Linked DNA regions of Homo sapiens. The protein of the gene in region 1 interacts with the protein of each later gene in a pairwise test. Each region holds a gene or a part of one and is shown in the gene's direction. Other genes may lie near its edges.

The links. The genes of interacting proteins can lie anywhere in the genome.
Region 2: the proteins of ROR2 (region 1) and LHX6 interact in binary tests that used the Homo sapiens proteins (3 or more experiments, as listed by UniProt).
Region 3: the proteins of ROR2 (region 1) and POU2AF1 interact in binary tests that used the Homo sapiens proteins (3 or more experiments, as listed by UniProt).

Annotation. Positions count from the first base shown.
Region 1 is NC_000009.12:91,947,226-91,954,653, reverse strand, and holds the start of ROR2 (tyrosine-protein kinase transmembrane receptor ROR2 isoform 1 precursor), read left to right. Parts: upstream 1-4,425; 5' UTR 4,426-4,690; coding exon 4,691-4,787; intron 4,788-5,925; exon of another isoform or gene 5,926-6,047; intron 6,048-7,428. UniProt on the Homo sapiens protein: Tyrosine-protein kinase receptor which may be involved in the early formation of the chondrocytes. It seems to be required for cartilage and growth plate development. Phosphorylates YWHAB, leading to induction of osteogenesis and bone formation.
Region 2 is NC_000009.12:122,225,946-122,232,782, reverse strand, and holds the start of LHX6 (LIM/homeobox protein Lhx6), read left to right. Parts: upstream 1-3,825; 5' UTR 3,826-4,042; coding exon 4,043-4,126; intron 4,127-4,349; exon of another isoform or gene 4,350-4,425; coding exon of another isoform or gene 4,426-4,476; exon of another isoform or gene 4,477-4,983; intron 4,984-5,241; exon of another isoform or gene 5,242-5,302; coding exon 5,303-5,374; intron 5,375-5,752; coding exon 5,753-5,935; intron 5,936-6,285; coding exon 6,286-6,407; intron 6,408-6,837. UniProt on the Homo sapiens protein: Probable transcription factor required for the expression of a subset of genes involved in interneurons migration and development.
Region 3 is NC_000011.10:111,355,264-111,362,285, reverse strand, and holds part of POU2AF1 (POU domain class 2-associating factor 1), read left to right. Parts: intron 1-2,895; exon of another isoform or gene 2,896-3,014; intron 3,015-3,367; coding exon 3,368-3,498; intron 3,499-4,448; coding exon 4,449-4,491; intron 4,492-4,575; coding exon 4,576-4,841; intron 4,842-5,852; coding exon of another isoform or gene 5,853-5,870; exon of another isoform or gene 5,871-7,022. UniProt on the Homo sapiens protein: Transcriptional coactivator that specifically associates with either POU2F1/OCT1 or POU2F2/OCT2. It boosts the POU2F1/OCT1 mediated promoter activity and to a lesser extent, that of POU2F2/OCT2. It recognizes the POU domains of POU2F1/OCT1 and POU2F2/OCT2.

The DNA of each region.
Region 1 (7,428 bases):
GCTCTTCTCCAGGCAAACGAGACAAGCATCTCCGGCTAGGGTGATGGTGATAGAGAGAGAGGACGGGAGGCAGAGGGCATTGGGTGGAGACCAAAGGCCGTGATGCTAAGTGCACATAGGAGAGAGGGCAAGGAGGGGGTTGGGCTTCTGATCTTGTGGAACTACACGGATGATGGTGCCATCAAGTGCAGGAGGGAACGTGGGAAAAAGATGAGGTTTGGGGCAGGGTTTGGGGTAGGGCGATGTAGAGCTTGAGTCCATGATTTAAATAACTTGAGTTTGAGGTGCCATTGGGACAGTCATGTGGAAACGCCAGGCAGGCAGCTGCAAATGTAAGTTTGGAGGTCAGGGGAGCATGCCAGGCTGGAGTTACAGATTTAGGAGGTGCTGGGCACATAGGTGACATTGGAAGCCATGAGCTTGGAAGAGATTTCCCACCGGGAGAGTGTGGAGCAAGATGAGAGGATGGCAGAGGACCAAGACCAGCATAATCACCAAGTGGAAGAGGTTAAGGTGCAAAGAAGAACAAGGAGAAATGGCTAAATAAGTAGAAGCAAAACCAGGAGCTCTTGATATCATACAAGCCGAGGGAAAACATGTTTTGAAGAGGGAATGGTCTAGGGTAAAATGCTGCAGAGAGACTGCGTGAGAGAAGAACAAAAATGTATGTTGGTTCAGTACATGGATGACCACACCCAGCTGCTTGTGTGGATTCAGGGTGGCAGACTGGCAAGGAGTGTGGAGTGAGGAAATGAAGCCATTGTGTTTGACACGTCTGGCGATTTATCTTGTTTGCAGTGGGATATTTGTAGAGCTCCCTGCTAGTGGAGCAGAAGGGTACAATTCAGCTGAGGATTTCCTAACTGAAAAAGTAATAAGCAAGTGAAAAACTCTACCACACTGGTCTGCATGTATTCCTCACAAAAGCGCGGTGGGCCCAAGGCCTTGGACTGTAGTCACCTACTTTCCACGTCCACGCAGTGAAGTTTGGTATGCCCAGATACTCCATATCGTTTTTTTTTTTTTTTTTGTAGCGGGGGAGGGGTCTGATTTGGTATTTATTGAAACTCAAAAAGCACTACCTACAAATGAAAGAATGGATAAACTGGACTTCAGCAGAATGAAAAACCGCAACTTATGAAAAGACATCATTAAAAAAATGAAAACTAGCCAGAAACTGGAAGAAAATATATCTGTCTCTTTGAGTTTTCACTCAGAACATACAAAAAAGAGCTCTAAAAACTTTTTTTTGTTTTGTTTTGGAGACAGGATCTCACTCTGCAGCCCAGGCTGGAGTGCAGTTGTGCAATCATAGCTCACTGCAGCCTCGTACTCCTTGGGCCCAGGTGATCCTCCCATCTCAGCCTCCCGAGTAGCTGGGACTACAGACGCTCACCACCATTCCTGGCTAATTTTAAATTATTGTTTGTAGAGACAAGCTCTCACTATGTTGCCCAGGCTGGTCTCGAACCCTTAGGCTCAAGTGATCCTCCCACCTCGGCCTCCCAAAGTATAGGGATTAGAGGCAAAAGCCACCATGCCTGGGCAACACTTGAAAAGAAGAAGGCATCCAACCTTATGAAAAAATCAGAGAAGAAAAGAAATTCCATGATTTGAGGGAGACAAAGAATAAAAATAAAAATAAATCAGCAAAAATTTGACTAGACATCTGACAAAAGAAGGTAGGCTAACGGCCAATAAGCATAAGAAAAAATATAGAATATGACTCCTCATCAGGAAAATGTGAATTAAACCACATAATTTAACCACCCAGGTCTCAGATATCCCAGGATACCCCTGGCCTTGAAATCTTCACACTGGCTCTTCACTCCAGCTCAAATACTCTTCCCAGATATGTGCATGGCTCCCTCCTTTCTTAAGGCCTGCAAGGGCTTGTTCCCGCCGGTCTTGCTAGTATAGACCCTGCTCATTTTCTCTCCCTCTTGCTTGCTGTTCATCACAAGGATGAAAATGGCTGTCCCCATACAGCTGGTGTGGTGTCAGCCTCCAGTGATTCCTATCTCTTGGTATATATAAACCTGTTTAGTTTCCTTCTATGACAAAGGGCCCACCCATGGAGCCAATAGATACTGCAGAAATTATGGCATGTGACTTCCAAGGCTAGGCTATAAAAGACACTGTGGCTTCTATCTGGCTCTCTTTTGGATTGCTCACTTTGGGAGAAGCTAGAAGCCATCTTGTGAGGATGCCCAAGAAGCCCACGTGGCTACAAACTGAGTCTTCCCATCCACACCTAGCACTAACTTGCTGAGCATGTGAGTAATCCACCTTGTGAGACTCCTCTAGCCCCAGCGAGCCTTCAGATAATGGCAGCACTGGCTGACATCTGACTGCAACCTCCTGAGAGACCCTGAGCCAGCACCATCTAGCTAAGTCTCTCCTGCCTTCTCGACCCAGAGAAATGGTGTGAAATAACGAATGTTTACTGTTTTTAGCTGTTAAATCGTGGGGCAATTTGTTATGTGGCAATTGATGACTAATACAGATGGAAAGGAATATGTTGCTCCAATTTGGCCTTGGACGTAAGCCATATTCTCTTAACCACTGAGAAAGCTTGTATTTTCATCCTTCCAACTTTGCTTTTTTTGTTTATCCTTCAGTTCAGAACCTACAGAAAGGGAAGGAGAGAGTGAGAGAGAAATGCCAAAAAAGAAAGCTTTAAAAGGCTTTTAAGAAATCATATGCAATATAACCCACATTTCTGACTCCACCCAAGAAACTGTCAGCAAAATATATGTTGCTGTTTAAACCTTTGAGTTGGGTTTGTGGGGCCTCAGTCATGTGAAAATAACACACAGATGGGGGCATGATGAGGTCATTTTCCTGAAGGTCACACAAAAATAAATGGCAGGGCTGCTGATGAAATGGTTCTGGAGCCACATGCTCACGCTGTGTGAAGTGGAAAGCAAAGGTGCTGGGACCACCTTCTCCGAGCTGCACAGCACCACGGAAAGGACACAGCATTGCTGAGGGAGGGGTTTTCCAGGGCAGGTTCAAGACCCTTCTCTGCAGCCCCTGTTGGGTTTTCCCTAGATCCAGAAGAGAGGGGTGTGGAACTAAGTGCTTCAGCACCTACTCTTAAAACATTACTCTAAAAGCATCCTTAAGGATTCTAAGGGAAGCTAAAGGGAGGAAAACCCCAAAGATAAACCCCTGGCAGTCCTCTAACCACTGGGGAGAGCAGCCCCCCCGTTCAGACCCGCACCAGCCTGGGCAGAGGAACAGCCTGAGCCCGTCTAAGAAGTTTGGTAATAATTTTGCCATCCAGTTGAGGAGGGGCTAGGATCTTCTCCCATTCTCCTACTGGATTTACAGCAGCTCCTGGGAATGAGAACTGCGTGAGATATTTCCCTACACAAATTGGGTAGAGATAGCCGGACGCCTAAATACTTTTAACAGAGGTAACAAGCTAGAGCTGGCTTAGTCATTTTGTCCGCAGACCATAGCAAGAGAGTTTTTATTTCTGGCCACGTCTGAGGCCTCACGTCTGGCACCCAAGGCCAGGGCTCTCCCTAATGCCCTCCAATTAACAGAGCTTGGTACTCCAGCAAAAACACCAAACAAACTGCTGGATAATCAGTTAAAAGATCAATCTCATGGAACAAGCAACTGAGATGCTGGAGAATCCAATTCCTTCCTCTAAGAGGAAAAACAAAGACATTTGCATGTGCTGAGCAAAACCAAGAATAAGCAAGAAAACATGCTATTTGAATTCCGTTCAAAATGTCTCTAATAAGTGAAGCAAATTCTGCACATTCTGGGCCTCTGCAGAGAACAAATAGTGTTCTGCCTTTAATGGGTAAAATTATACAATTTGCTTTTAACAGTAAACCAAAAGCCGCGGTGGCTTCGGATAGCATCGCGCTCCCGAGGGCTCCCTCCACGCAGCTCGACCCCTGGCAGTTTTGAGCATTTCGGGGGACGCGCTTGTCCCCACCGACCTGGGAGGGCGCCGGTGCCAAGGCGGCCTGTTTGTTTTCCTGAACATTTCCTTTTGCAACTTTCGCTTCTCCTCTTCCTGCCTCACCGCTGGTGTCTGGGGCTGGGTGGCTCTCAGATTTGTCCCGGTGCGCAGTGCAGCCTGGAGTTACTGATTTGTGACCTAGATCCCCGGGTGTGTCGCCCCCGAAAGTCGGGGGCACCCGCTCTGGGCGCCTCTCCTGCGTGGGCAGACCCGCCGAACTCCGGCTGACGCCCCCAAGGCGCCACCTTTGTGTTCAAGCGTTCCGAGGCGCAGGCCCGAGGGCGGGCGCAGGAGGCAGGTCCGGGGCCCCAGCTGCAGCCCCAGCTCCTTGGGTCCCGCCCGCCGCCCGCGCGTTCCCCCGGCAGGGGGCGCCGGCGCAAGCCTCGCTCTGCCCATCGGGGCGGGCGAGCGGGGACCCTGCCTCCTGCGCGCTCGCCCGCGGTCCGCCCCCCGCGCTCGTCCTGGCGGCCGGCGGGACGCCCCAGCCCGCGCCAAGGAACCTCCCCAGCCAGCCCTTGCCGTGGCCGGAGCCGAGCGGCGCATCCGGGCCGGAGAAGAGGACGACGACGAGGTCCTCGAAGTGGACCCGTTTGCGAAGCGCCAGGGAGAAGGAGGAGCGGACGCATCGTAGAAAGGGGTGGTGGCGCCCGACCCCGCGCCCCGGCCCGAAGCTCTGAGGGCTTCCCGGCCCCCACTGCCTGCGGCATGGCCCGGGGCTCGGCGCTCCCGCGGCGGCCGCTGCTGTGCATCCCGGCCGTCTGGGCGGCCGCCGCGCTTCTGCTCTCAGTGTCCCGGACTTCAGGTAGGATCTGGCGTTCCGGCTTGTGCGCAGACGGTAGCTCACGGCTCGCTTGGCCAGCCCTTCCGCCGCCACTATGCTCCCGGCCGCTGCGCCGGCGCCCATGCTCCTGAACGAGGGGCGCCAGGCAGGGCCATTCGCATCTCGCCCGACGCCGCTCCCGGCCCGCACCCCGGACCCCCTCGGGCTGGTTACAATAAGCCGCGCTCTGGGGACGCCTAAGTGTTTCCAGAGTCTGGGGGCGGGCGGCGGCGGCTGGGAGCCTCTCGGTGGCGCTTCCCGAGGGTCGCGAGTGGGAGTGCGAGTGTGAATGTGAGTACCCGCCCTGGGCCCGGGACCCGAGTCCGCAGATGTGCCCCGAGGGTCCCAGGACCCGGGCTTCCTCCCCGAGGTCTTCCTCCTTCAAGGGCACACGGCCCCGAGTGTCCCCCGTCTGTCTCGGAGCGTCCCCCCACCCCCAGGGCGGCCTGATGCCTGGCAGAATCCTGGGGTGGACGTGGCCCCGGAGAAGCGGCTCTTGCGGCGGGGGTGGGGGCGCCGGCGGCTCCCGGGTCCTGACTTTCCCAGCCCGCGGGCCGCTTGATGGAAACGGGCTCTTTGGCATCCCTTTTGTTGGTCCCTGAAACCTCCTCTCCCCCACCGCTCTGGGGTGGCCGAAGTGGTGTGTGATCTGGATTGAAATGGTTTGTGACTGGGATCGCGGGTCCCTGAGCGGCTGGGGCGCGGCCGCCTTCTGGCCGCGCCGGGGGGACCCCCGGGACCTGTAGGAGGCTGGCGGCGGGAGGGGCGGGGCCCGGCTCCTAGGTGGGTTTCCTCCCGGGGCCCCACTTCCCCCGAGTCCCTGCGCGGTTTCGGCTGCTTGGATCCGGGGCGCAGAGGAACGGCGGGGAGGTTCGGAAGTGCAGCTTGGGACCTGCCTAGGTTGCCTGGAGGAGGCGGCGTTAGCTCTGGCGGTGCAGACTCCGGGAGCACCTCCCGCCCGCGCGCCTCGGGCCGGATTCTCGGCACCCTGCGGGGGTGGAGGAGGGCGGGCGGGGCCTTCAGGCCCAGGAGCGCCAGAGACCTATGGGGTTCGCCTGAAGCCCCCGGAATGTGTGAGACACTTCTTACTAGTAAATGGGCTTCAGTATCCCCCATCCCTGCACTCCTGCAGGAAGGTGAGAATCGGGACAGTCGCAGGCTGGGAGACGCTCTGCTTTTCCTGCGTCCTGCTGGGAGCTGCGCGCTCCAGGTATCCTGGCCTGCCGCCCTAGCCGGCCCAAGGTACGCGAGTCAGAAAGGCTGCACAGTCTTTCCTGGGGGGGGGTTTTAGTTTAAGCAGATGTTGATTACGTCAGACATTCCTAATTACTTGATTTGGGAAGGGAGCTTGCGTTTATCTCACTGTGCATTAAAGCATAAACCGCTCAGAGTGCACAATAAAATAAGTAGACCACATTCTAAGTTGGTATCCATCACTCAAGACCTCTGTCGATTTCTGCAACCCCTCCCCCAAGAATCTCCCAGGAGATCCCTTTGCTGGGGGAGAGGGGTGGCGGGGAGGCGGCTTAAACACGTTGCTGGACGTGCTGTTGGGCGGCTTTTGCTGTTCACCCTGCGGTTAATTGTCCTACAAAAACTCTGCCTTGCAGACCATGAGGGTTGAGCGCAGCCTTTGAGGGGCGGTGCTGTGGTGGGGGTTTTTAGATGGGTGATGAGGAAAGCATGATGGGTCCATTGCTTAAGCCAAGGTGGTTGTAACAGGAAAGTTCCTTGAGTTTTGGGTGAAGGAATTTAAACACTCATAGTTTCCAGTGAATGTACAAATGTCTTATATGAACAAAGCAATTGGAGTCGTTTTCTTTAATTTTTGAACCCTGTTCTTTTTCTAGTGAAATACTCATAATCTTTATAGGAGAGGGCATAGGATATAATTCTCTTCGTTCTGTATGGCTAGGTTAACAAAATCCAAAGAGTATGATAATTTTTATTCAAAATAATAATAAAATTATATGATTACAGGAGATTTGAGTGTTTGGGATCTTTTCTGCTGTGAAAAGAGGAGTCCCTGTTATTTGAGTGTGTTTTATCCACGAAATAATTTATTATGTAAAACTATTTAGGGGTTTTTCTAAAAGGATTTGTAAGTTCTTATTCCACATTTTAATAGCAAGACTCTGTTTCCTCTGATGACAAATACTGATTTGGGACTATATACCAATCCTAGGTAGGGTAGGTGGGGAACGATGGAGCATTAGGGTCCCCCCAGCCCCCATTTTTGGCAGTGTAGTGTTTACTTTTGGCCCAGATCCCTGGAGTGATGGTGGTAATAAATAATGATAGTGATCCGTCTAGAAGAAATCCATCTAGAAGAAAATAAATGGAAACATCTTGAATAAGAAGACTTTGTGGAAAAAGAAAAGTTTTTATGTATATAGTAAGGCAACATATTTTTCTTATTACGGCTGTGTACCAAGCACAGAGCTACACATTTGAAATTTTTCAGTATAATTGTGAGATCCTGCTTAACTCTCATGTCCACTTCATAAAGCATGTCACCCTGAAAATCTGATCGCCGTGGACCCTATGTGACACTCAGTGTAACTGAGAGGGCTCTGGAAAGCCAAGCTGAACTTTTAATTAGTAAAGCAAATCATGGAAAACT
Region 2 (6,837 bases), about 30 Mb from region 1:
GTATAAATGAATAAATCTACAACACTTTAAAAAATATTAGTTCTTTTTTTTTTTTTTTTTTTTTTTTTTTGAGATCGAGTGTCACTCTGTTGCCAGGCTGGAGTGCAGTGGTGCAATCTCGGCTCACTGCAGCCTCTGCCTCCCAGGTTCAAGCAATTCTCCTGCCTCAGCCCTCAGCCTCCCGACTAGCTGGGACTATAGCCACCTGCCACCACACCCGGCTAATTTTTGTATTTTTAGGAGAGACTGAGTTTCACTATGTTGGCCAGGATGGGCTTGATCTCCTGACCTTGTGATCCACCCACCTTGGCCTCCCAAAGTGCTGGGATTACAGGCATAAGCCACTGCACCCAGCCAAAATATTAGTTTTTAATGTATAGTTAGTTGTCACTTCAATTCTGAGAGGTCAGTATCATTATTCCCCGTTTTGCAGGTGAGGAACTGAGGCTCAGAGAAGCTAAGTGACTCAAAGTGACCCACAGTTTGTCATAGGAAGAAATCAAGTATCCTAATGGAAGGTACTATGTTTGCTAATCCTAATTTTGCCAAGGTCACTCCTATCTGGACTCTTTTTCCTGATGGAAAAAGATGGAGTCAGGAGTCATTGGAAGAGAGATTTCTTTTCCAAAGTAATTTCACTTCTGTCCTCTTTGAAGTTAGGCAAGTTCTGGGCTCGAATAATGGTTCTGCATCTTCCTTAGGTAAGTTATTCAGGAGAAGATTTGATTTTTTTTGGTTGATTCATCCCCTGCCTTCATAAAGAATTTGATGTAGTACCTAGTAGAATCACAACCACAAGATTCAGCCGGTCCATTGCCATAATGATGGCTGTTTATCATTTGCTTACTGTGTGCCTGGCATATTTCTGAGCCCTATTACATGGATCATTTGCGTAATTTTCACAACCATAGGAGTTGAACTCGGTTATCCCCACTTTACAGATGAGGAAACTGAGGCTGATGAGTGGCTGAAGAACTTGTCCAGGGTTACCCAAGTAATAAAGTAATAAAGGGAATAGAAAACAGATGCCAAGGTTGGCATCAAGGCCATCTGGCCCTAGAGTCTTTGTGCTTCACTACTGACTTTACTGCCTCTTACTCCAGTTTTTATTATCTGAGCACTTAATCAGAATTCAGGAGCAGAATTGCATAGTAGGTAAGAGTTTGGGTTCTAAAATCTGAGTGCCAGAGCTTCAGATGGGACTCCTGTAAGCTTGTTTCCTCAACTATAAAAGAAAGATAATAATATAACCTTTTTGTAGGGTAGTTGCAAGGATTAAAGAGGATAATGCGTGTAAACAACAAAGGGCTTAGCACATAAATGCTCAATAAATAGTTATTATTGTTATCACTCTAGGAGCACATGCTTCACATTCCCCCTCATTAGAGTGCAGCAGCTTGTTTGTCCAGCCTCTGAACCTTTGTGGTCCTCTCTCTACCTGAAATACTTTCTTCTTCTCCCTGAACCCATCCAAATTTCACCTGCCCTTTAGTTTTAGCTCAAGCCTCTTCCATGGCTCATGTCTAAGAAGTTTTGCAAAGCCAGTACGATCTTCATGGTCTTCTTTCCTGGGGCCCTTCTGCACTCACAAATCTGGCATATGTGCAGCATTCTATAACGTTTATTAACCTTTCAATTCCCCCAGCCACCCAAAGGGGAGGAAGAGAAGGAGGTAAAGCAGGTCCTATTGTTATTCCCATTTTGCCGATGAGAAAACAGGCTGAGCCTATAAGTGGTGAGGCTGGGAGTCACATCCAGGTCTTTTAACAGATAATGTGGAGTGTGTGTGTATGTGTGTGTGTGTGTGTGTGTGCACATGTGTGTGTGCAGAAAGTAAACATGGTCATGTCTGCAGCCTAGAAATCAAGAGTATGAGCTCTAATGTGAGATGAATGTGGTTTTAAGTCCTTGGTTCTGGCAATTAGCCATGTGCACCATTTTGGATATATCACATGAACTCTCTGAACCTCAGTCTCTTGATCAGTAAAACAAGCACGCTGAGAGATGCTACCTCACGGGATTATTGTGAAAAGAAAATGAGATCACGATTGTAAAATGCCTCGTATCATGCCTGGCACAGATTAGTAGCTGTAATAACTGGGAATAATCCCAGTAGTAGCTGAAATTATTATGTGCAAAGGAGATATTTGAGAGGGAGGGGTTGTTCTTCTGTATTCATGTTTGAGAATGCATGTGTATGTGTGTACACATGTGTACCTATGCATACACCTCACCCGCTTTCACATTGCAACTTGTTCTCTTCGTATAAAAGATTAGGGTTCAAAGAGAAACTCTTTTCACTCTGAATTTCTGTGTCTGAGAGCAATGAATGACTGGGATGCAGAGGGCGGGAAATGCCATTAGCTGAGGCTGGGGCTATTTTTGTGTACCTTGATGCCAGTAAAGGAACAGATATTTGTATCTTTGGGGAATATGGGTGTGGATCTTTAGTATCGTGTTGGTGTGCAGGCATCCTCTACTACCTGCGCCTGTCAGAACCTGCCTGTGTGTGTGCAAACTGAGACTATAACTATTGGGAATCTATGGCTGCAGAAGTGTGTGTGATGTGTCTGCCTATAAATGCCTATCAATAGTTGTCTCACCATCTGTAAGGATGTAAGTACATATTTGAGGGTGCCTGAGTAGAGGACATAAGGTTATACATGGGTTTGGAGCTCTGTGAAAATCTGTGCCCTCTTGAGTATGGCTGTGTGTACAAATGGAAGAACAATTGTGTGTGGGGGGGTGTTTACATCTGTAAATGAGGGCAATTATGGAGGTGATGACATGTGTGATGTGGTGAGGGTAGGCTGTCATGGTGTCTGTAGGGCTGGATCTATGTCTGAGTGTGCTTATTTGTTTTTAGATGATGTATGTTTACATGTGTCTCTTTAGGCTCAGTTTGTGTGTGGAGAAGGGGGCTGAGACTCTAAGTGTCCACTTGTGTATGCTGCAGGGCGTTAGTGTGTGTAAGGCTCCATCTTTGGGTTTGAAGGTTCTGTGTCTGTGTGTCTGGGGGCAGTGTCTTCTGTCTAAATGCCTGGGCCTTCCTGCCTTCCCTACCATTCTCATTGTCAGTAGAACCCTAGAGAAGAAGGGATGGGCATTGGACTGTGTGGTTAAGCAAATCCTGAAGGGAAGGGGAATGTGCCAAGCAATCCCTTCCAAGAGAATTCAGGGAAACTACCCTCCCGTTTCACCTCAGTCCCTGGGAGCTGGTGCACTGTCTGGTTCTTATAGAGCAGAGGTATCTGTGCAGGTGTGTGAGAGTAAGTGTGGTGCCTCGTGCCCGTGTAAATGATGTGAACAGGTAATCACTTACATTAGTGTGTACACAAATGTACCAGGCATGGGATTGCATCAACACAGTGTAATAACGTGTGACCTCCTACGGAATCTATCTCCGCAGATGGTATGGCCATGGGTCCCTCCTGTACCTGTGAGTGGGGCAGTGTCTGAGGAAGATGGGTGCCCCTTGAGGGAGGAGCGGTAGTGAGAGCTGGGTGGATGTGTGCCCGCCGGTGCCTTTGTGTACTGGCGTGTCTCCGAGTCTCTCTGTCGGCAGCTCTGAGTTTCTGTGTGTCTCTGTGTCTGTGTGTGTGTCTCTCTCTCTGGGTCTCTGCCTCGTCGTGTGTGTCTTGCTCTCCCTTGGCGGGGAGGGGATTGGTCACGCATGACTCATCTTGAACCGAGCGGGGCTCCAGCGGCAGGGCGGCCGCCGTTGCAGCTGGAGGGGGAGGAGGACAAGGAGGAGGGAGAGGAGGAGGAGGACTACCAAGAGGGGGAGGAGGAGAAGAAGGAGGGGGCGGGGGCCTCTCCAAGTTTGTCGGGACCTTCTTCCGAGGCAGCGGCGGCAGCAGCCAGGGAGGCCGGGGCTGCGCGCGGGCCGGGGGCGGGGGCTGAGGCCGGGCCCGGGGCGGCGGGGCCGGCGCCTCGGCTCTCCTCCTGCTCCTGCAGCAGCCTCTGCTCCCACTGCGGCTGTGGTCCCCCTCGGCGCAGCTCTCCGCGCTGCGCGCCCGCTGAGCCCGAGGTTCCCCGGCCCATGTACTGGAAGCATGAGAACGCCGCCCCGGCGTTGCCCGAGGGCTGCCGGCTGCCGGCCGAGGGCGGCCCCGCCACCGACCAGGTGAGCCGGCGAACGACTGGGTGAGCGGCCCGGGCCGGGGTCGGGCAGGGTCCGGGACCCAGCCGGGCCGAGCAGGGTGGCGGGCGGTTGCAGGAAGGAGGGGTACGAGGGTGCGCCTGTGAGTGTGTGCTTGTGAGTGTGGGAGCGCGCGCGCGAGCGGGGGGGGGGGGTCGCGGAAAGCGGGAACACATTATGCAAATGTTGGAGGAATTTCTCAAAAAGCGATTTAGTAAAGACACAGGCGAATCAAGAGGAGGCGAGGCCGGTATTGTCCGTCTGAATAGGCGCTGATAGCGCCGATGCGCCGGGGGTTGTGCCGGCGCAGCGCTGAGAATCCCGACGCGGGGCCGGTACCCGGCGCGCCGAGGGGCTGGAGGGTGCTTTTTCCTCCCCTTGAGCGCCTCTCTTTTCTCTTTTTGGTCCCGTTTCGCCCCGATCTCGCTCTCTTTTTGCTCCGGGTTTCCCTCCGACTGGCCCTCGAAAGGCGCCTGAATCCGTGTCAATATAGCTGCTTCAATTTCGCCGCGCGTGTCAGGCGGGCGGGCGGGCGGGTGCTCACCGCGCTCGGGGTTTTCTTTTCTTCAACCACCCTCCGCCCCTCACCCATCTCTTTTTTATTTTCTTTCTTTCTCTCTTTTCTCCTTTTTGCATTTTGTGCCGAGAGGAGAAGGGAGCGAGGAAGGGGAGTGGGGTGGGGGGGCGGGTGGAGAGAGAAAAAATTCGATTTTTAATTACTACCATTAAAAAATCAAATTTGCAATTCTTTGGGCGGCCTGATGGATCTCACTGATTGACAGTTGGAATTGACACTCTGGCTACCTCTTATCTTGGGCATTCACGACAATTTCTAATTGCAGGTAGTTTGTGTGTGTGTGCGCGTGTTTTTCTTCCCCCCTCAGAGGCTTGGATTGCAAGGGAACTAAGCGATTACTTCAAGAGCCACGGGTTAAGTGCAGGGAGAGGGGGAGAGAGAGGGAAAAAATCCAATCCAAATTCAAATTGCTTCATTAGAGAGACACCGCTTTTGTGGGGAAGGGCTTTAAATGCCCACTACAAAGTTAGGACTCATTGTTCGGCGCCGGTTTATATAACAGGCGCGGGGAGGCGCTGGGCTCAGGCTGTGCGGAGCCAGTTCAGCAGCCGCCGCCGCCTGCGTTCCCTCCCCCCCTCCCCCAGGTGATGGCCCAGCCAGGGTCCGGCTGCAAAGCGACCACCCGCTGTCTTGAAGGGACCGCGCCGCCCGCCATGGTGAGTCCGTTTGGCCCTGCCTGCGGTGCCCAGTCCTCCAGCGGCCCGGCCCTGGGGACCTGGCCAGGTTTTCCGGCCACGAACTGCTGCTCACGCTCTGGGGGACTCCCGGCGGGCGCCGCCCCTCTCTGAGCCTCGGTTTTCCGGCAGGGAATGTTGGCTTTAACCGCTCCCAGCACCCAGAATGCGCGTGTTAAAAGTTGGGGCCGTCCCTTCCTCTCCAATAGGCCCTTCCATCCCTGTCCTTCAGTCTACGGCGCATTGTCCTGGGGAGATTTCGTTGTCAATTGGTGCTCGGGGGCCCCAGATTTGTCTCCAAGGCAGCCCCAACTCTGGGTGCCCGGATCAGCGCTCCTCTCCTTCTCTCCCCCGCCGCAGGCTCAGTCTGACGCCGAGGCCCTGGCAGGAGCTCTGGACAAGGACGAGGGTCAGGCCTCCCCATGTACGCCCAGCACGCCATCTGTCTGCTCACCGCCCTCTGCCGCCTCCTCCGTGCCGTCTGCAGGCAAGAACATCTGCTCCAGCTGCGGCCTCGAGATCCTGGACCGATATCTGCTCAAGGTGAGACAGGGGTAGGTGTTGCGTGCGTGTTGTCGGGGCGTGGGACGCAGCGCAGGAGACTGCAGGGAAGCACCGCAGGTCCTCTTACTTCCAAATCCTGGCTCCACTGCTGCCCGACTGCGAAGCTTTGGGCAAGACTTAGGGTCTGCCTGAGCCCCCGGGTTCCGTCTGAAAAATAAGAAGAGTTTATTTCCATTTCCCTGAGTCTCAGTATTACGGGAGAAAAATAGGGGAATCGCATGCACCTTCTGAGCTTCAGCGCCTCTGACTGTAAATGAGACCGGGAAGGCTGGGGCCCGGAGTGAAAGAGGCCCGCGCTGAGCCGACCTCCGTCCCCGCCCCGTCCCCAGGTCAACAACCTCATCTGGCACGTGCGGTGCCTCGAGTGCTCCGTGTGTCGCACGTCGCTGAGGCAGCAGAACAGCTGCTACATCAAGAACAAGGAGATCTTCTGCAAGATGGACTACTTCAGGTAGGCTGCGGCCGCCGAGCCAGCAGTGTCGCCGAGGGCAGGCCCCGGGCGCATTCGGAGGCCACTTTTGCGGCGTGTGGTCTCTCCTCCAGAACCCCGGCGTCCCGAGTGCACTTCCGGCGCGCAGCGCTGGTCCAACCTGCCGGCGCTCAGCGGCGCGAACCCAGAGCTCCAGGCAGCGCGCCAGTGCCTGCACAGGTTTGCGCCCCGGATCTGCCTTCGGTCCTCGCGGTCCATTGGGTTTCGGTATCGTCTCTGGCTCTGTCTCGGGTCCTGCCTAAGTCTCAGGCTTCAGTTCTGACCTCGAGCGCCTCGGTGGAGCTCTGAGGTCCCCATTTCTGGCCCGGACCCACTCGGATCCCAGCCGTCGTCCGGCTGCATTTCCAGTGCGTTCGGGCTTCGAGTTCCAACCCTACTCGGACGTCATTCA
Region 3 (7,022 bases), on another chromosome or scaffold:
GAGGGGATGGGTGCTTTATTTACCCTGATGTGATGAGTGTGCATTGCATGCCCGTATCCAAATATCTTGTGTACCCCATAAATATATACACTGACTATGTACTCATAAAGATTAAAACCAAAAATGCTGACGTGGCCATGGGGTGACCCTGAGAAAGAGTGAGTTGAGTGTGGCAGGGCAGGTGCCCTGTTCGCTGACACGTCAGATTGTACCTGGGGCCTGTGGTCATCGCTGGGCACCACCCAGCAGTAGGGAAAGTGGCAAATGGAACTTGTGCAAGAGTGACTCACCCAGAAGGAAGGTGGGGAGACTAAAACCATGTCATTTAGAAATAGCTGAAGGAATGAGAAGTCCCTTCAGACCTAGGGGGACACCTGGTATCTGTCCTCAGATTTCGGAAGGGAATATTACTACTAATACTCATGATAATCGGAGCTCACATGTATTAAATGCTCTGTGCCAAACTCTATTCCAAGCACTTCACATGCAAATCTTAAATTACCCTACAACATACATACCATTATGATCTTCACTTTATAGATGAGACAGCTGTAAATGGACTAAGAAATGTGAGTTTCATTAGAAGGTAATGGAGGGAAATATGGCATGTGTTACCATAAGTTAGCCTCAGTAGGAGGAAGAGCTGTCTGACATGATAATATCCCCCCGAAAGGAAGGTGGAAATGGCCAGAAGGAAGATAATTAAAACCACATGTATTGAGCATCTACCCTATGCCAGACATGGCCTTTGGAGCTCCCCATGTATTATTTTGGTTAATCCTCACAACCACTGTGTGAGAGAAGAATTATTATTCCCGTTTTACAAATGAGGAAATTGAAGCCCAGAGACATTAAATAAATCTAAGAACTTTCCACCAGTAAGTGACAGCCCAGATTTGAATACAGGTATGTGTGGTTCTCAAGTCTACTGTCATTGGTGTTCAGAGCAAAGGTGGAGGCGCACAGGTGGCCCCGGGGCACAGAACCAGGCTGGTTCCCCTGCTAGACACTCCTATAGCAGCCTGAATTTCACAAGTTGTGACACATTCATCTGCTGGTAACTTTTGTTGCTTGTCTTCCCCGTTAGACTGCAAGATCCACGTGGGCGGGGGCTCCATGGGTCCTGTGCAGTGCTGTACTCCTAGGCACTAGAAATATTTGAAAAAATGAATGAATACCAGTAGAGATCTCTTGTTCAGACAGGGGAAGTTAAAATAAGGATAATGAATCTCCTATTGGGATGTTATCGGGAGATTCTTATGTTAAATTAGGAATGGATTATCAGCAGTTGTAATCCCAGTATATTTTCAGAAATACTGGACAGATTTTTTTTTTTTTTTTTTGAGACAGAGTCTCTCTCTGTTGCCAGGCTGGAGTGCAATGGTGTGATCTCAGCTCACTGCAACCTCCACCTCCCAGGTTCAAGCCATTCCCCTGAGTCAGCCTCCCAAGTAACTGGGATTACAGGTGCCTGCCACCACATCTGGCTAATTTTTTGTATTTCAGTAAATATGGGCTTTCACCATGTTGGTCAGGATGGTCTTAATCTCCTGACCTTGTGATCCACTCACCTCAGCCTCCCAAGAGAGATTTTTATACATACAGATTCCTAGGCCTATATCAGCCCCCTAGAATCAGACTTTCCTGGAGCAGGACCTGTACCTGTATATTGCATCATTTCCTGGTTGATTTGCTACCTGGCCAGCTGAGGGACCTTGGAGGATGGGTCTAAAGTCCACCTGAGATACTGGGATTCCTGACCCCCAACATCTGCCCCTGGGACTCATTTCCCACTTCCTGTTGCCTCTGCCCAAGCTTCTCTCTGCCTTCTGGGCTTCAAGGCCAGGCCTTGCTCGTGGCTGGAGCCTGGAGGGAGGTCTGGTGCCGAGTCAGGCATGGGACCTTATCAGCTGGGTATTTACTGAGCAAAGTTCAACCAGGGCAGTGCTGCAGATCCGGGTTTAACAGATACCTAGGCTTCCGGGACTTTGATTCAGAGCCCAGGTCCCTGGGGCCCTTATCGGTGGATAATAATGGGCTCCCTGTGGAAGTCCTAAGGTCTAGTGTTTCTTGGCTGACCCAGGCCTGCTCTCTGAGAGCCCAGGATCCCTAGGCCACAGGCTGTCTAGGTGGGCAGCTTGTTGCTTCCCAGCCACGGCTGCTTTTCAGTTGCTCTCCCAGGCCAGGAAGGGCCCTATGCACTGGCTCTTATTTGGGTCAATGCTTTGGTTTCCTGGCTTTGATGGCAAGAGGGGAAGGAAACCTTCCCTCAGCAGCAGGTGGACACTGTCTGGCCCCAGGGTACAAGGATCACCCTTGGGTAATTGTCCCATGCCCTGAAAGTCACTGAGAACCTGGGAGCCACTTGCCTCAATCCTAAAGGTGTAGGAGAGGTGAAGGGAAGACAAATGGCAGCATGTCTTAAAGAATCACCCAATCGATTAATCAATAAGTATCAACTGAGCTTAAAACGCATGGGCATGCCACTGGGAAGACATAGAGAAATAAGGTACAATAACTCACCTTGAGACGTTTATAATCTAGTTGTGGGTATAAGACACTTCCATCAAAAAGAATAACTATTACATAATAGACTGAATTTTTTTGAATGCCTACCCTGTACCTGAATTTATTTGAGGCATATACTGTTCTACCAATTTCCCACATCAAGTGACTTCTCTCAATATTCCTTTGATAAAGAAACTGAAGATTAAGAGGCACAGAGAGGTTTAGTAACTTGCCCAGGATCACACAGGAAGGTGGTGGCAGGGGCAGGATTTGAGGCCTGTGCTATCTGGCTCAGAGTCCCTGCTCTTATGGCTGTCCTCTACTGCCACCTATGATGAATACTAATCAGATCTGGAAATGTTTGAGAAGCTGTAGAATGTGGAAATTACTCAGGCTGCAGGGGTCAGGCAGGAGGGTTGCATTTGTCTTGTGTCAGCAAGAATCAAGAGGTTGGAAGAAGTGAGAGGGAATTCTGACCACGGAAAACCTCAACCACAGATGAGGAGGTGAGACACGCAGGAACACGTAGAGAACACAGACAGACCTTCTGGTTGGAGACAGGGTTTGTGTAGTAGGGAGTGTGCAAAGTGGTGAGAAAAATGGGTTCGGATCTCATTCTGAAGACTGTCCAATTCTAGGACAAGGAGCTGGGCCTTCGTTGTCTGGGTGCAGGGGACCCACAGAAGGTTTGGGAGTAGGAGGAGTGACAATACTGGAGAGGCATTCTAGGAAGTGTCACGTGGTTCTCCGTGTTCAAGCACGACTTAGGGGAGCAGGCAGATCCATGAGGAAATGAGCACTTTGGGGTGGGGGCTCGTCTGAGAAGGACCATGGGCTCCAGGGACATTGCTTTTCACAGCCACAGCTCCGGAGCAAGCCCCAGCCCCGGCCCGGCCATACCAGGGCGTCCGTGTGAAGGAGCCAGTGAAGGAACTGCTGAGGAGGAAGCGAGGCCACGCCAGCAGTGGGGCAGCACCTGCACCTACGGCGGTGAGAGTTTGTGTGTGTGAGAGTGTGAGTGTGTGTGTGTGAAAGAGAATGTGTGTGTCAGGGATAGTGTGAGAGTGTATGTGTGTGTGAGTATGTGTATGCGTGTGTGTATGTGTTTGTGTGTGATAGAGTGTGTGAGAGTGTGATAGTGTGAGAGAGAATGTGTATCTGCGTCAGTGTGTGAGAGTGTATGTGTGTGTGAGGGAGTGTGAGTGTGTGAGTGTATGCATGTGAGTGTGTATGTGTTTGTGTGTGATGGCGTGTGTGAGTGTGTGATAGTGTGAGAGAGAATGTGTATGTGTCAGTGTGTGAGAATGTATGTGTGTGAGAGAGTGTGTGTGTGTGAGAGTGAGTGTGAGAGTGTGAGCGTGTGTGTGAGAGAGTATGTGTGTGAGGGAGTGTGTGTGAGAGAGTGTGTGAGTGTGTGAGAGTGTGAGTGTGAGAGTGTGAGAGTGTGTGAGAGAGTACGTGTGTGAGAGAGTGTGTGTGTTTGTGTGAGAATGTGTGTGCGCGCAGGCAGATGGCTTGGGAGGTGACCAAAAGGATCAGGCAGGAAGGAGCGCAGGTCCCTTGGTGGAGGCTGCCAGGGATAGAGCTAGGGTGGAGCAACTGGGATGAGGGATCAGGGCCGGCTCAGCTGGCCCACCGAACACAGCTACTGTCAAGGCCTGAGTGAGCGAATGACTTGCATACCCTGGTGTGAGTTGGGGGCCCCCCCTGAGAAGAAGAAGACACCAGCTCCCTGAGCGCACAGACTTCCTGCTAAATAGAAACGCAAATCTCTCAAGTGTAGGTGGTGATGGTTGGGATACGGGGTGGGATGTTTTGTTCTAACCAGAGAGATTCCTATCTTCTATTCTCCTGCCCTGAGGCCCTCTGGGCAAGTTCTCTGCACAGGGCCGGTTGACGAGGGCTAAACATTGACCCTGGTCTTCTCCTCTCCCCTCTAGGTGGTGCTGCCCCATCAGCCCCTGGCGACCTACACCACAGTGGGTAAGAGTGCCCCGTAGCCCTGGTGGCCCCCAGGCCTCTCATCTGGGTGGCATCTGAAGTTCTGTAATTTCCTTCTTCCCACAGGTCCTTCCTGCCTGGACATGGAAGGTTCTGTGTCTGCAGTGACAGAGGAGGCTGCCCTGTGTGCCGGCTGGCTCTCCCAGCCCACCCCGGCCACCCTGCAGCCCCTGGCCCCATGGACACCTTACACCGAGTATGTGCCCCATGAAGCTGTCAGCTGCCCCTACTCAGCTGACATGTATGTGCAGCCCGTGTGCCCCAGCTACACGGTGGTGGGGCCCTCCTCAGTGTTGACCTATGCCTCTCCGCCACTCATCACCAATGTCACGGTATGTCACACAAAGGCAGGACTGCACCCGCCCATGCTGAGTGCACCCTTTTATAACCAGAGCTGACTTCTCGATCCTGATCTTCCTTGCTATTGATTCTCAAGATAATCAGGTCATCAGAGCTCGCCTTGGTCTCCATGGAGGCCTGCTCTGATTCTCATTTCCTGAGATAACTTCCACAAAGATGTCTCGCAGCCTCTCTCGTCATACTTTCTGCTCCTCAGGACTGGGGAGGTCTTCTCTGATTCCCTGTTCTAAATCTCCCCAGCTTCCCTGCAAGCAGTGAGTCTTGGTTCTGAGTTGAAGTTTTTAGTGAATGTGGCACCAGGCGAGATCTACATGGGGTCTTGTGTTGGAACTAGCCTTTCATTTCTATTCAGATAACTTAGGGAGTGATTGTTCACTTAATAATGGGGTTTAACAGAAGATTTCTAGGCTGAACAACAGGTGATATTTTTGATGGTGTCAGACCCACGTGTGGGGTAATTTTTTAAAGTTCTGTCTCTACTGTCAGATTGCCTTGTTCAAATCCCTGTCCCTTCACTTACTAGCTATGTGACTCTGGGTTTAGTGACTTAAAACTCTCTGAGCCTCAGTGTCCTCATCTGTAAAATGGGAATACCAAGAAAAGGGTCGTTGTCAGGATCAAATGAAATAATGAGTGTGGAGGGCTTAGCACAGTGTCTGGCATACAGAAACCACTAATATATGTTAGTTATCATCATATCAAAATCTGCTAACATTAACCAAGGGCTTGATGGGAAAGGAAGAGCCTCTTCCCCCGGGAATGAAGGAAGGAAGGGAAATAGATTTATGTTAATGATTCCTGTTCGACTAAAGGACTGGGAATTTTGCAAGTATTCAAGGGCAAAAAGACCTGTGGTTACAGCTGTATCCAGCTCCAGTCCAGGGAAACCGTGGGAAGTAGAGCTGGGCCTTGAGCAGTCCCAGAGCCCACCTTCGATGGTGGTGCTTGCTTTGGTCCACCTTGTCTCTTCCATTTCCCTCCAGGGTCCAGTGTCATCCTGATGCACCTGCCCCTGCCTCCAAGCACCTTCTATGAAAGGCCTGCAGAAGCCCTTCCCTCCCAGGTCCACCTGCCTACCCAGCAAACCAATTTTGGAGCCTGGATGATGATAGATAAGAAGGAGTTAATCCAACACCTCTCCCAGGCAACTCATTTCCATGTCAGAGGCCTGGGGTGAGGGTGGTGGGTGGAGGACTCACGGCTCCCACCCATTTCATTACCAAGGATTCCTTTCATTATTTATCCCCTTTCATCATTCCCACCTTCTGCTTTGAAAGGTTCTGTATATCAAACAAACAGTATTCATTAAGAATTGATTTATTTGTTTTGCCATTTTGTAAATTAAGTCATCAAAGCTGGCTAGAGCTGTAAGTCCACACTCCTGATCAGCAGAGATAAGACCTGCTGTGTGCTGAGTGGAAGTAATTGTATTCCCGAGCAAAGAAACCTATAGTTACAGGTTTATGACTGGGAAATGTAGAATTTCCATCTGGATTTTTGAAAAGCTGGGAATCATGAGGCTTTCCCGGATTCTGTCTGGTTTCAGGACACTGGGATGGGGACCACTGGCTTAAGTCAAAGGAGAGGAAGTGATTATGCTGTGGTGGGGTGTACACCTCAGCCCGGATTTCAGGAGGCTGGAAGGCCTCTGAGACCATTTCCAGCTCTATCATTCTGTGCAAAAACACCCTAAAGCCTTGCTACTCAAACTCTTGTCCCTGGACTGGCCACATTGGAGTCCCCCTGAGATCTGATTAGACATGCAAAATCCCAGGCCCCACTCTAGACTTCCTGTGCCAGAAGCTGCGTTCTAACAAGATCCCCAGGAGGTTGAGAAAAGCCCTGCCCTAAATGATTCTAACAGTTTGCTGTCAAGACACAGTGACAGTAGGAGGGATATATGACAGGGGAGACAGGGATGGTAGGGGGAGATTTTGGCCTCCCTCTCATGAATCCATGCAGAGAGCATCCTCTTCTATCTGCTTTCCTCAAGTGTGAAAGAAAAGTAAGAATCCAGGTCCCGCCCCTGTTGCAGGCCTGATCTGAGGTTTGTGAGGGCAGTCGCCGTGCAGGTGAGAGGTATGACTCGCAGAGCATTCAGGAGAAGGACTCTAACACTTGGAGGGTCATGGGGGGTGCCCATAAGTGGGATG